Linked DNA regions of Homo sapiens. The protein of the gene in region 2 interacts with the protein of the main gene of each other region in a biochemical or structural test. Each region holds a gene or a part of one and is shown on either strand. Other genes may lie near its edges.

The links. The genes of interacting proteins can lie anywhere in the genome.
Region 1: the proteins of CXCL17 (region 2) and CCL25 form a complex in vitro, tested with the Homo sapiens proteins (one large-scale study listed by BioGRID and IntAct).
Region 3: the proteins of CXCL17 (region 2) and CXCL14 form a complex in vitro, tested with the Homo sapiens proteins (one large-scale study listed by BioGRID and IntAct).
Region 4: the proteins of CXCL17 (region 2) and CCL28 form a complex in vitro, tested with the Homo sapiens proteins (one large-scale study listed by BioGRID and IntAct).

Annotation. Positions count from the first base shown.
Region 1 is NC_000019.10:8,051,509-8,055,559, reverse strand, and holds the start of CCL25 (C-C motif chemokine 25 isoform 1 precursor), read right to left. Parts: upstream 2,801-4,051; 5' UTR 2,797-2,800; coding exon of another isoform or gene 2,738-2,796; intron 2,561-2,737; coding exon of another isoform or gene 2,511-2,560; coding exon 2,438-2,510; intron 1,519-2,437; coding exon of another isoform or gene 1,448-1,518; exon of another isoform or gene 718-1,447; intron 1-717. UniProt on the Homo sapiens protein: Potentially involved in T-cell development. Recombinant protein shows chemotactic activity on thymocytes, macrophages, THP-1 cells, and dendritics cells but is inactive on peripheral blood lymphocytes and neutrophils. Binds to CCR9.
Region 2 is NC_000019.10:42,430,363-42,432,946, forward strand, and holds part of CXCL17 (C-X-C motif chemokine 17 precursor), read right to left. Parts: intron 1-2,584. UniProt on the Homo sapiens protein: Chemokine that acts as a chemoattractant for monocytes, macrophages and dendritic cells. Plays a role in angiogenesis and possibly in the development of tumors. Acts as an anti-inflammatory in the stomach.
Region 3 is NC_000005.10:135,570,179-135,573,085, reverse strand, and holds the end of CXCL14 (C-X-C motif chemokine 14 precursor), read left to right. Parts: intron 1-1,217; coding exon 1,218-1,233; 3' UTR 1,234-2,407; downstream 2,408-2,907. UniProt on the Homo sapiens protein: Potent chemoattractant for neutrophils, and weaker for dendritic cells. Not chemotactic for T-cells, B-cells, monocytes, natural killer cells or granulocytes. Does not inhibit proliferation of myeloid progenitors in colony formation assays.
Region 4 is NC_000005.10:43,405,892-43,409,391, forward strand, and holds part of CCL28 (C-C motif chemokine 28 isoform a precursor), read right to left. Parts: intron 1-3,500. UniProt on the Homo sapiens protein: Chemotactic activity for resting CD4, CD8 T-cells and eosinophils. Binds to CCR3 and CCR10 and induces calcium mobilization in a dose-dependent manner.

The sequences.
Region 1 (4,051 bases), about 34 Mb from region 2:
GATTGAGACCATCCTGGCTAACACGGTGAAACCCCGTCTCTACTAAAAATATAAAAATTAGCCGGGTGTGGTGGTGGGCGCCTGGAGTCCCAGCTACTCGGGAGGCTGAGGCAGGAGAATGGCGTGAACCCGGGAGGCAGAGCTTGCAGTGAGCCGAGATCGCGCCACTGCACTCCAGCCTGGGCGACAGAGTGAGACACCGTCTCAAAACAAAACAAAACAAAAAACAAAAATTAGCCAGGCATGGTGGTGGGCGCCTTTTTTTTTTTTTTTTCCAGAGTCTCACTCTGTCACCCAGGCTGGAGTGCAGTGGCTCAATTTCAGCTCACTGCAACCTCTGCCTCCCGGGTTCAAGCGATTCTCCTGCCTCAGCCTCCCGAGTAGCTGGGATTACAGGCGCCCGCCACCACGACCAGCTAATTTTTGTATTTTTAGTAGAGACGGGGTTTCACCATGTTGGCCAGGATGGTCTTGATCTCTTGACCTTGTGATCCACCCGCCTTGGCCTCTCAAAGTGCTGGGATTACAGGCGTGAGCCACTGTGCCTGGCTGATAGTGGGCGCTTTTAATCCCAGCTACTCTGGAGGCTGAGGCAGGAGAATCACTTGAACCCAGGAGGTGGAGGTTGCAGTGAGCCGAGATCACGCCATTGCACTCCAGCCTGGGCGACAATAGCAAAACTCTGTCTCAATGAAACAAAACAAAACACCAACCAAACAAACAAAAAATTGTTTTAATACAAAGTAAAGAGCTCTCAGTAAATGTCAATGTCTAGACAAGCAGAGATGAAACACACAGATGAATTAGACCTAGTGTTGTCTTCAGGGAGCTCCCGGGAAACTGATCTCTGCAGAAAGGGGGAAGCACAGGCACTGTGGGGGGTGCCCAGAGGAGGAGGAGGTGATGCCAGAAAGTTCTGGGGGGATGAGCAGGTGGAATGAATGAGCCGAGGATGAGCTGATGAGATAGTGGAGGAAGCTGGGGTGCAATTCTCTGCCTAAATGGCCTTTGGAGTTCTCTGCAATCTCACCTCTGCCAGAACTAACCTCCAGAGGCCGAGTCTGAGTCCCTGCAGAGCCCAGCCCAGCAGGAGCAGGGAAAGGGAGGACTCGAGCCCTCCAGGTGTCTCCCAACCGCGGCCTCTGAGGGCAAGGGGCAGCGCATTCTGTTGGAACCTCGGACTGCAGTGCCAGGCAGGTAGTTCCCAAGGCTGGAGGCCAGGATCGAAGGGCTGGGCTGGGCCTGGCTCTGATAGCAAAACAATCAGACCACAGCCCAACCCCCTTCCCAGGCAAAGGCCAAGGACTTGGACCCATCAGACCCAGCCGAGGGGCAGGTGGGTCAGGTGGGGGCAGACAGGGAAGGAGGGTGGGACCCTGGGTCTGCCGCCCAGCCAGGGACCCTGCTTTGGCCAGCTGCTGAAACTCAGAGGATGTAGGACCCAGTGTCAGGGCTCCCGTGGGGACACCCCAGGCCCAGGAATTGTCCTTTGGCGACTGAAATCCTCAAGTGCTTGCTCTGCGGTAGGGAGTGGGGAAGAAGGAAAGAGTTCCCTATTAATAACAGGAACAGTTACTATTGCCGCCGCCAGACATGAGGCCTAGTCTTTTGCAGGCATGAGCTCACTGGACCCTCAAGTCAGAGCCATGCAGTGGGAATTTTAGATTCCCACTTTGCAGCTGAGGAAACGGAGGCTCCTAAAGGTTTAGGAAGCCGGGCACAGTGGCTCAAACCTGTAATCCTAGCACTTTGGGAGGCTGAGGCAGGCGGATCGCCTGAGATCAGGAGATCGAGACTACTCTGGCCAACATAGTGAAACCCCATCTCTACTAAAAAATACAAAAATTAGCCGGGCATGGTACACACGCCTGTAGTCCCAGCTACTTGGGAGGCTGAGGCAGAAGGATCGCTTGAGCCCAGGAGGCGGAGGTTGCAGTGAGCCAAGATCGCGCCACTGCACTCCAGCCAGGGTGACAGAGTGAGACTCTGTCTCAAAAAAAAAAAAAAAAAAATGGTTTAGGAGCAACTAACTCTCAGCTGGACTGCATGGAGGGACCAGGATGGGAATCCACTCTTGTCAGTCTCCAGGGCCCTGATCTCCAACCCCACCCCTGGCTCGGCAGGATTAGGATTCTACAATACATCCCTGGCAGTAACTGGCTTTGCCCACAGCTGGAAGCCACCCTCTGCTCCCTCACATCTTTAGGAGTCTTGCAAAAGACTCCATGGGGCTCTCGAAGAAGGAACTGGGGACTCTCCATCTCCCCGACCCCATCCCAAGAGCTAACCAAACACCAGGAGTTCCTGCATGTCAGGAGCGGGAGAATTCAGTGGAGATGGGATTGGGGAGACTTCCGGAGGAGATAAGAGACAAAAGGGGTGGGGTGGGGGCATGGGGAGAGGGGCACTTGGTGGTAGGCATTGCCGAACACAGTACCTTGGGTGTGGACAGCGGGGGCCCAGGCTCCCAGGAAGCCGGCCACCAGGCAGGCCAGGAGCCACAGGTTCATGCTGCAGGCGGGTCCTCCTCCCTGGGCACCTGGACGAATAACGGGGCCACCTGGGGTCGTGGAGGGAAGTGGTAAGGACTGAGGAAGAGGAGGGGAGTGGGTACTGGGAACATCCCCCCTCTTAAGCCCCAGGCATATGGCAAGGGAAGGAGGTTGTATAAAGTAGGAACAAGTTGTGCTGGAGGGAAAAGCTGTTCATCTCAGTCATGTTCAAGGAAAAGACTCACCGATATCCACTGGGTCAAGGGAGCTGATGCCCGCCGGGCTGTAGGCCAAGCTGTCCCATCTGCAGGACCAACACGCTGAGCTTCACTCTTTATAGACAGAGCCCCACCCAGCCACCCCCTGCCCGCCCTCCTCCCTTCCTCCTCCTCTCCACCTGCACTCTCAGCCTCTGGAATTCTCCCTCTTCTACAGCAAGCTCCAACCTCGACCCACAGGCCCCCTTGCCTCCCCACTCCCCATCCCAGGCCTCCCAGCCAGCACCCCTACTGTCTCCAGAAAGGGCCTTTTCCCCTGTTTCCCTCACCTGCACACACCTGGTGGACACTGGCTGCCTGCGAACAAGGCTCAGACTGCCTTGAGCCCCCAAACAAGCCCTTACCTTCATGCTCCCCCCGCCCTCAAGCCACCTGTTCCCTGGTGGGTCCCCAACTTCACTCCATTTCCCTCTCCTTCCACACCATGGTTAGGTAACTTAGCATGTCACAGAAATCCTCTGGTTGTGATCACAGGCAAATCCATAGAAACAGAAAGTAAATTAGCGGTGGCCACAGGATGGGGGGAGGGGAGAATGAAGGACTGACTGTGAGAGGGTATGGGTTTCCTTTTGTTCTGAAATTAGATGAGAGTGATGGTTACATAACTCTATGAATATAGTCAGCACGGCACAATGGTGCACCTCCCACCGGTGAACAACCCCAACAAGAAAGAAACTCTCTAGGCCAGGCATGGTGGCTCATGTCTGTAAGCCCAACACTTTGGGAGGCCGAGGCCAGAGGATTGCTTGAGCCCAGGAGCTCAAGACCACCCCGGGCAATATAGAGAGACCTGCGTCACTACAAAAATTTTTTAAAAAATTAGCCTGACGTAGTAGTGCATACCTGTAGTCCCAGCCACTCAGGAGGCTGAGGTGTGAGGATTGCTTGAGCCTTGGAGGTTGAGGCTGCAGTGAGCTGTGATCATGCCACTGCACTCCAGCCTGGGCAACAGAGCAAGACCCTGTCTCAAAAAATGGAAAAAAAAACGGTGGCCGGACACAGTGGCTCACACCTGTAATACCAGCACTTTGGGAGGCCGAGGCAGGCGGATCCTCTGAGGTCAGGAGTTCGAGACCAGCCTGGCCAACATGGCAAAACCCCATCTCTACTAAAATTACAAAAATTAGCCGAGTGTGGTGGGGGGGCACCTGTAATTCCAGCTACTCAGGAGGCTGAGGCAGGAGAATCGCTTGAACCCGGGAGGCGGAGGTTGCAGTGAGCCGAGATTGGGCCACTGCATTCCAGCCTGGGCGACAAGAGTGAAACTCTGTCTCAAAAAAA
Region 2 (2,584 bases):
AGGCAGGCAGATCACCTGAGGTCAGGGGTTCGAGACCAGCCTGACCAACATGGAGAAATCCATCTCTACTAAAAATACAAAATTAGCTGGGTGTGGTGGCGCATCCCTGTAATCCCAGCTCCTCAGGAGGCTGAGGCAGGAGAATTGCTTCAACCCGGGAGGCGGAGGTTGCAGTGAGCCGAGATTGCGCTATTGCACTCCAGCCTGGGCAACAAGAGCAGAACTCCATCTCAAAAAAAAAAAAAAAAGAAAGAAAGAAAGAAATAGAATATTGCCAACAGCACCCCTCCTTTTCTGATCACTGCTTTCTCTCCCCCTCACAGTGATAATCTTGACTTTTATAGTAATTATTTACTTTCTTTTCTTTATTATTTACCACCTATGTGTATAGATTCCTAAATAATTTAGTTTATTTTTTCTCATTTTTAAACTTTATGTATATATTATGGTCTGAATGTTTATGTCTCTCCCCATTTTTTTTGTTTTTGTTTTTGAGATGGAGTCTCACTCTGTTGTCCAGGCTGGAGTGCAGTGGCGTGATCTTGGCTCACTGCAACCTCTGCCTCCCGGGTTCAAATAATTCTCCTGTCTCAGCCTCCTAAGTAGCTGGGATTACAGATGTGCACCATCACGCCCGGCTAATTTTTTTGTATTTTAAGTAGAGACGGGGTTTCACCATGTTGGCCAGGCTGGTCTCGAACTCCTGACCTCAGGTGATCCCCCTGCCTTGGCCTCCCAAAGTGCTGGGATTACAGGCATGAACCACTGCACCTGGCCTCACTTTAGTTTTAATTCACATTTTCCTTGTAATAATAAGGTTGAGTGCCATTGCATCTGTTTATTAGCTGTTTGGGTTTCATCATCTGTGAAGTGGCTATTCAAGTATTTTTGCCCGTTTGTCTGTTGTATTTCCTGCCCTCCTCTCACTGGTCTGTAGCAATTCCTTATATATGTATTCTGAATACTAATCCTTTGAAGGTTGTGTATGTTACAGATATCGTCTCCTATTTGGCAGCTTGTCATTTTATTCTTTTGATGATCAAAATTTCATAATCTCAGTGAAGTCAGATTTATTTACTCTTTTACTTTATGGTTTGTGCATTTTGTATTTTGTTTAAGAAAGGCTTTCATACCTCAAGGTTGTGAATATATTCTCCTGTATTTCCTTGTAAATTTGTCTTTCAAATTTAGATCTGTAATCCACCTGAAACTTACGTTAATGAAGGATGTGAAATAGGGGGTCTCTACATCATTTTTTTTTCATTAATATATTGTGGATATCTCTCCAGCCAACACATAATGATTTATCTCATTATTATTATTATTATTTTTATTATTATTGTTATTATTATATTTATTTTAGAGACAGGATCTTGCTATGTTGCCCAGGCTGGTCTTGAGCTCCTTGGCTTACTGGATCCTCCTGCCTCAGCCTCCTGAGTAGCTAGGATTATAGGCCTGAGCCACTGCCCCTGGTTTACTTAATTATTTTTGACAGTAATTAGTTTTTCCCAATTTGCCTTTGAAGAAAATTTCCCCCATTTATTTGTCAATACAAATACTGCTATAATTAATATTCTTGTACCTATATTTTGAGCATCCATGCTAGTATTCCATTGTTGAGATTTCCTAAAGTAAGATTACTAAAGTTATTATACTCATTTACAATTTTGATACAGCCAAATTTATTTTACTTCCGTCAATAGTGTATAAGGATCCTGATATATCCCATTCTTGATAATATCATAATATCAATCAGTTTAACATTTGCCAATTTAGTTTTTTTTTTTTTTTTTTTTTGAGGCAGAGTCTCACTCTGTCGCCCAGGCTGGAGTGCAGTGGCATGATCTCAACTCTCTGCAACCTCCACCTCCCGGATTAAAGCAATTCGCGTGCCTCAACCTCCCGAGTAGCTGGGATTACAGGCATGCACCACTATGCCCCGCTAATTTTTGTATTTTTAGTAGAGACGGGGTTTCACCATGTTGGCCAGGCTGGTCTTGAACTCCTGGCCTCAAGCAATCCGCCTGCCTCGGCCTCCCAAAGTACTGGGATTACAGGCATGAGCCACTGTGCCCGGCTGCCAATTTACTTTTTATATGACACTTAAAAACTGGTAGACTAAACTGGGTGTGGTGGTGTGTACCTCTAACCCCAGATCCTTGGGAGGCTGTGGTGGAAGGATCACTTGAGCCCAGGAGTTTGAGACCAACCTGGGCAACATGGCAAGACCCCCTACTCAAAAAACAGAACAAAATAACAAACACAAAACTGCTAGACTAGGGAGGAGTCAAATTCTGTTTGATGCTGACACTGGTGTAATCTTCAGAGATTAATGACCAGATCTCCAACAGCCCCATCTACCCCCACTTTGGTAAACAGTGAGGTTTTAAAATCTAAGAATTTGGTTAAACCTTTCCAGTATCAGGAAAATTGTATCCTGCTTTTCCTCTCTTCCTATTTCCCGACAAGGTGACATTGAGTAGAAAGGGCTGAGTTGTGTGCTTATCCTGGTCTTAATTTCACCTCTTTTTTCTATTCTCAACGTGCTTCTTCCCTAGTGATTTCACGGAGTGACTCTGGT
Region 3 (2,907 bases), on a different chromosome or scaffold from region 2:
AAGGAGGCACCCACAGGTCTAAACATGGCCCTGCTTTTTTTTTTCCTGAAAATTCCAATAACAAAAGCAACGAGAGCCTCTCACTACCAGGCCTTCTCTCACTTTGCTATAAAATTAGTTCACCCCTCTTTCTTAGAGTGTTGAGGTCCCTGCCCTCCCCACCTCCCTCCCCTGAAACAAGTTGAAAATATCTTAATGAACATAGAACAGTGATAAAGGAAGTGTTTGAAGTCCTCTTTGTACAGAGAGAGAGAGAAAGAGAATGCCAAAGCTAGGTTGGAGGAAGTAGAAGGGTATACGGTGGGCTCAGGCCCATGGGGGCCACACAGAGGAGCTCTGTGCACTTCAGAGACCAGAGCTTCCAGGGAGCTTCTGGCCACCACAGGAAGCAGCCTAGTCAGGCATTTTATTTCAATGGATAATTCAGTGGTCTTACTCAGAAATCAAGAACGAGACAGAAAAGTGATAGGCTAAGTGTAACGTATGGCCCCAGGGCAGCCATGGGGCAGAACTAGAAGAAAGCAAAATATCTAACTGGGCACAGCTTGAGAGGTGAGGGGAAGGTGGGGCTGGGAACGAGTAGAGATGAGGCAATGCAGCCAGGAGCAGGGACTGAGGGGCACAGGCCTCCTGCACCACTGCCCCACCCCACCAACCACCTCTTCTGTCTCCAGGAAGCAGCTTCTAGAGCTAGCATTCTTCTGGAGGACATGCATTATTTGGGCAAAATACAAAGAAATATACAAGCCTAAGTCAAGTAAGGGAATGCCTCCCACCCTTGCTATTTTCTCTAAATAGAGAGGCTGAGTACAGACGCGGAAAGAAACAAGGAGGTGTGGGAGCAGCCCGCCATGCTAGAGAAAGACTACATTCCTGCCACTAACAGTCGGTGGCCACTGGGCAAATCTTAAGTCTGTGGTGCCTCAGTTTCCTCATATGCAAAGCGGGTTTGTTCCATAGGCCTCTGAGGACAAAATGAGATTGCAGAAGTGAGATTGCAGATGGTTAGAAAAGACAAAGCCACACTGGTGTGAGTTTTCATGGTCCCCGGGACCACATCCTCAGAAGGATCCCTCCCACTTCTCCTGGGGGTTCCTGCAGTTCTGGGACAGGGGCATTCCCTGCAGACCAGACGTGAATGAAGCCGCTTAGCCAGCATCTTGTGAACGGCCTGCCTCATGTCCTGAGCCACTTACACATGTGTTTTTTCTCCCCAGGGTCTACGAAGAATAGGGTGAAAAACCTCAGAAGGGAAAACTCCAAACCAGTTGGGAGACTTGTGCAAAGGACTTTGCAGATTAAAAAAAAAAAAAAAAAAAAAAAAAAAAAAAAAAAAAAAAAAAGCCTTTCTTTCTCACAGGCATAAGACACAAATTATATATTGTTATGAAGCACTTTTTACCAACGGTCAGTTTTTACATTTTATAGCTGCGTGCGAAAGGCTTCCAGATGGGAGACCCATCTCTCTTGTGCTCCAGACTTCATCACAGGCTGCTTTTTATCAAAAAGGGGAAAACTCATGCCTTTCCTTTTTAAAAAATGCTTTTTTGTATTTGTCCATACGTCACTATACATCTGAGCTTTATAAGCGCCCGGGAGGAACAATGAGCTTGGTGGACACATTTCATTGCAGTGTTGCTCCATTCCTAGCTTGGGAAGCTTCCGCTTAGAGGTCCTGGCGCCTCGGCACAGCTGCCACGGGCTCTCCTGGGCTTATGGCCGGTCACAGCCTCAGTGTGACTCCACAGTGGCCCCTGTAGCCGGGCAAGCAGGAGCAGGTCTCTCTGCATCTGTTCTCTGAGGAACTCAAGTTTGGTTGCCAGAAAAATGTGCTTCATTCCCCCCTGGTTAATTTTTACACACCCTAGGAAACATTTCCAAGATCCTGTGATGGCGAGACAAATGATCCTTAAAGAAGGTGTGGGGTCTTTCCCAACCTGAGGATTTCTGAAAGGTTCACAGGTTCAATATTTAATGCTTCAGAAGCATGTGAGGTTCCCAACACTGTCAGCAAAAACCTTAGGAGAAAACTTAAAAATATATGAATACATGCGCAATACACAGCTACAGACACACATTCTGTTGACAAGGGAAAACCTTCAAAGCATGTTTCTTTCCCTCACCACAACAGAACATGCAGTACTAAAGCAATATATTTGTGATTCCCCATGTAATTCTTCAATGTTAAACAGTGCAGTCCTCTTTCGAAAGCTAAGATGACCATGCGCCCTTTCCTCTGTACATATACCCTTAAGAACGCCCCCTCCACACACTGCCCCCCAGTATATGCCGCATTGTACTGCTGTGTTATATGCTATGTACATGTCAGAAACCATTAGCATTGCATGCAGGTTTCATATTCTTTCTAAGATGGAAAGTAATAAAATATATTTGAAATGTACCAAAATTCTAGACTGCCACCTTTTTTCTATTTAATTAAGCTAGGATGACAATAAAATGTTTACCATGTCCTGAAAAAATAAGGACAAATATGCTGGGAAAGAAAACTGGTATTTCCCAAATACCTGTCAACACCATCACCTCTGTGGAACGTGTGGAGCTGTCATTACAGTCAGGAAGCCAAGAAGCCAGGCCTTGAGGCTAAGGCTCCTTCCCCGACGATTCCTACCCCTGCAGCAGGTGTATCAGAGCAGGCAGGTTGGAGCACAGGGAACTAGAGGGTCACGATCCCAGCCTCCTCCACGCAAGACCACACTGAGCCTCAGCACCAGAGGGCAGCAAAGAGGCTGGATGCCTCAGCCAAGGGCTCTCCAAGTTCCCTGGGGCTGCATAAGGACGGCAACAATAGAGGACTGGTGTAATTATTGCCTACTGTGAGCCAGACCCTGTGCGGGGAGCCTTACATGCCCTATCTCTTTGAATCCTGGTAACAACCACAACGGGGGT
Region 4 (3,500 bases), on a different chromosome or scaffold from region 2:
TCTAGAAGAAATGGATAAATTCCTGGACACATACACCCTCCCAAGACTAAACCAGGAAGAAGCTGAATCCCTGAATAGACCAATAACAGGCTCTGAAATTGAGGCAATAATTAATAGCCTACCAACCAAAAAAAGTCCAGGACCAGATGGATTCACAGCTGAATTCTACCAGAGGTACAAGAAGGAGCTGGTACCATTCCTTCTAAAACTATTCCAATCAATAGAAAAAGAGGGAATCCTCCCTAACTCATTTTATGAGGCCAGCATCATCCTGATACCAAAGCCTGACAGAGACACAACAAAAAAAGAGAATTTTAGACCAATATCCTTGATGAACATCGATGCAAAAATCCTCAATAAAACACTCACAAACCAAATCCAGCAGTACATCAAAAAGCTTATCCACCATGATCAAGTGGGCTTCATCCCTGGGATGCAAGGCTGGTTCAACATACACAAATCAATAAACGTAATCTAGCATATAAACAGAACCAATGACAAAAACCACATGATTATCTCAATAGATGCAGAAAAGGCCTTTGACAAAATTCAACAACTCTTCATGCTAAAAACTCTCAATAAATTAGGTATTGATGGGACGTATCTCCAAATAATCAGAGCTATTTATGACAAACCCACAGCCAATATCATACGGAATGGGCAAAAACTGGAAGCATTCCCTTTGAAAACTGGCACAAGACAGGGATGCCCTCTCTCACCTTCCTATTCATCATAGTGTTGGAAGTTCTGGCCAGGGCAATTAGGCAGGAGAAAGAAAGGATATTCAATTAGGAAAAGAGGAAGTCAAAATGTCCCTGTCTGCAGACGACATGATTGTATATTTAGAAAACCCCATTGTCTCAGCCCCAAATCTCCTTAAGCTGATAAGCAACTTCAGCAGTCTCAGGATACAAAATCAATGTGCAAAAATCACAAGCATTCCTATACACCAATAACAGACAAACAGAGAGCCAAATCATGAGTGAACTCCCATTCACAATTGCCTCAAAGAGAACAAAATACCTTGAAATCCAACTTACAAGGGATGTGAAGGACCTCTTCAAAGAGAACTACAAACCACTGCTCAATGAAATAAAAGAGGATACAAAGAAATGGAAGAACATTCCATGCTCATGGATATGAAGAATCAATATCATGAAAATGGCCATACTGCCCAAGGTAATTTATAGATTCAGTGCCATCCCCATGAAGCTACCAGTGACTTTCTTCACAGAATTGGAAAAATCTACTTTAAACTTCATATGGAACCAAAAAGGAGCCCACGTTGCCAAGACAATCCTAAGCAAAACAGAACAAAGCTGGAGGCATCACACTACCTGACTTCAAACTATACTACAAGGCTACAGTAGCCAAAACAGCATGGTACTAGTACCAAAACAGAGATATAGGCCAATGGAACAGAACAGAGTCCTCGGAAATAATACCACACATCTACAACCATCTGATCTTTGACAAACCTGACAAAAATAAGAAATGGGGAAAGGATTCCCTATTTAATAAATGGTGCTGGGAAAACTGGCTAGCCATATGTAGAAAGCTGAAACTGGATCCCTTCCTTACACCTTATACAAAAATTAATTCAAGATGGATTAAAGACTTAAGTGTTAGACCAAAAACCATGAAAACCCTAGAAGAAAGCCTATGCAATACCATACATGCCATAGGCATGGGCAAGGACTTCATGACTAAAACACCAAAAGCAATGGCAACAATAGCCAAAATTGACAAATGGGATCTAATTAAACCAAAGAACTTGTGCACAGCAAAAGAAAATACCATCAGAGTGAACAGGCAACCTACAGAATGGGAGAAAAATTTTTACAATCTATCCATCTGACAAAGGGCTAATATCCAGAATCTACAAAGAACTTAAACAAATTTACAAGAAAAAATCAACCCCATCAAAAAGTGGGTGAAGGATATGAACAGACATTTCTGAAAAGAAGACATTTATGCAGCCAACAGACCATGAAAAAATGCTCATCATCACTGGCCATCAGAGAAATGCAAATCAAAACCACAATGAGATACCATCTCACACCAGTTAGAATGGCAATCATTCAAAAGTCAGGAAACAACAGGTGCTGGAGAGGATGTGGAGAAATAGGAACACTTTTACACTGTTAGTGGGACTCTAAACTAGTTCAACAATTGTGGAAGACAGTGTGGTGATTTCTCAAGGATCTAGAACTAGAAATACTATTTGACCAGCCATCCCATTACTGGGCATTTACCCAAAGGATTATAAATCATGCTGCTATAAAGACACATGCACATGTATGTTTATTGCAGCACTATTCACAATAGCAAAGACTTGGAACCAACCCACATGTCCATCAATGATAGACTGGATTAAGAAAATGTGGCACATATACACCATGGAATACTAGGCAGCCATAAAAAAGGATGAGTTCATGTCCTTTGTAGGGACATGGATGATGCTGGAAACCATCATTCTGAGCAAACTATTGCAAGGACAGAAAACCAAACACCGCATGTTCTCATTCATAGGTGGGAATTGAACAGTGAGAACACTTGGACCCAGGGTGGGGAACATCACACACCAGGGCCTGTCGTAAGGTGGGGGGAGCGGGGAGGGATAGCGTTAGGAGATATACTTATTGTAAATGATGAGTTAATGGGTGCAGCACACCTACATGGCACATGTATACATATGTAACAAACCTGCACATTGTGCACATGTACCCTAGACCTTTAAGTATAATAAAAAAAAATTGGTGTGGATGTATGTGTGGGTTCACATTGCTAAATGCATAGAGGAAATTCTGGAAGGATATGCAGAACCCTCTGGAGAGGGGAGAGGGATTAAAGGAATGATGAAGAGGGACTTTCCTTTTTTTAATTCTTTAAATTTTTATATTTGAAAATACACTAAGTATTTGTAACTTTCATAATATTAGGATAAATTCTTTAATTTTTGTGACATTTTTGGTAATTTTATTTTTTTGGTAATTTTTTACTTTTTTTTTTTTTTGAAATGAGAGTCTCACTCTTTCACCCAGGCTGAAGTGCAGTGGTGCGATCATGGCTCACTGCAGCCTCGAACTCCTGGGCTCAAGCAATCTTTCTGCCTCATTCTCCCAATTGCTGGGATTACAGGCAGCGAGGCCAAGGCAGGAGACTTGCTTGAGGCCAGGAGTTCAAGACCAGTCTGGGCAACATAGTGAGACTCTATCTCTACAAGAAAAATTTTTTTAATTAGCCAGGTGTGCCTGGGCATGGTGGCTCACACCTGTAATCTCAGCACTTTGTGAGGCCGAGGTGGGTGTATCACCTGAGGTCAGGAGTTTGAGACCAGCCTGGCCAACATGGTGAAACCCCGTCTCTACTAAAAATACAAAAATTAGCTGGGTGTGGTGGTGCACGCTTCTAATCCCAGCTACTCAGGAGGCTGAGGCAGGAGAATTGCTTGAACCCAGGAGGCGGAGGTTGCAGTGAGCCGAGATTGCACCATTGCA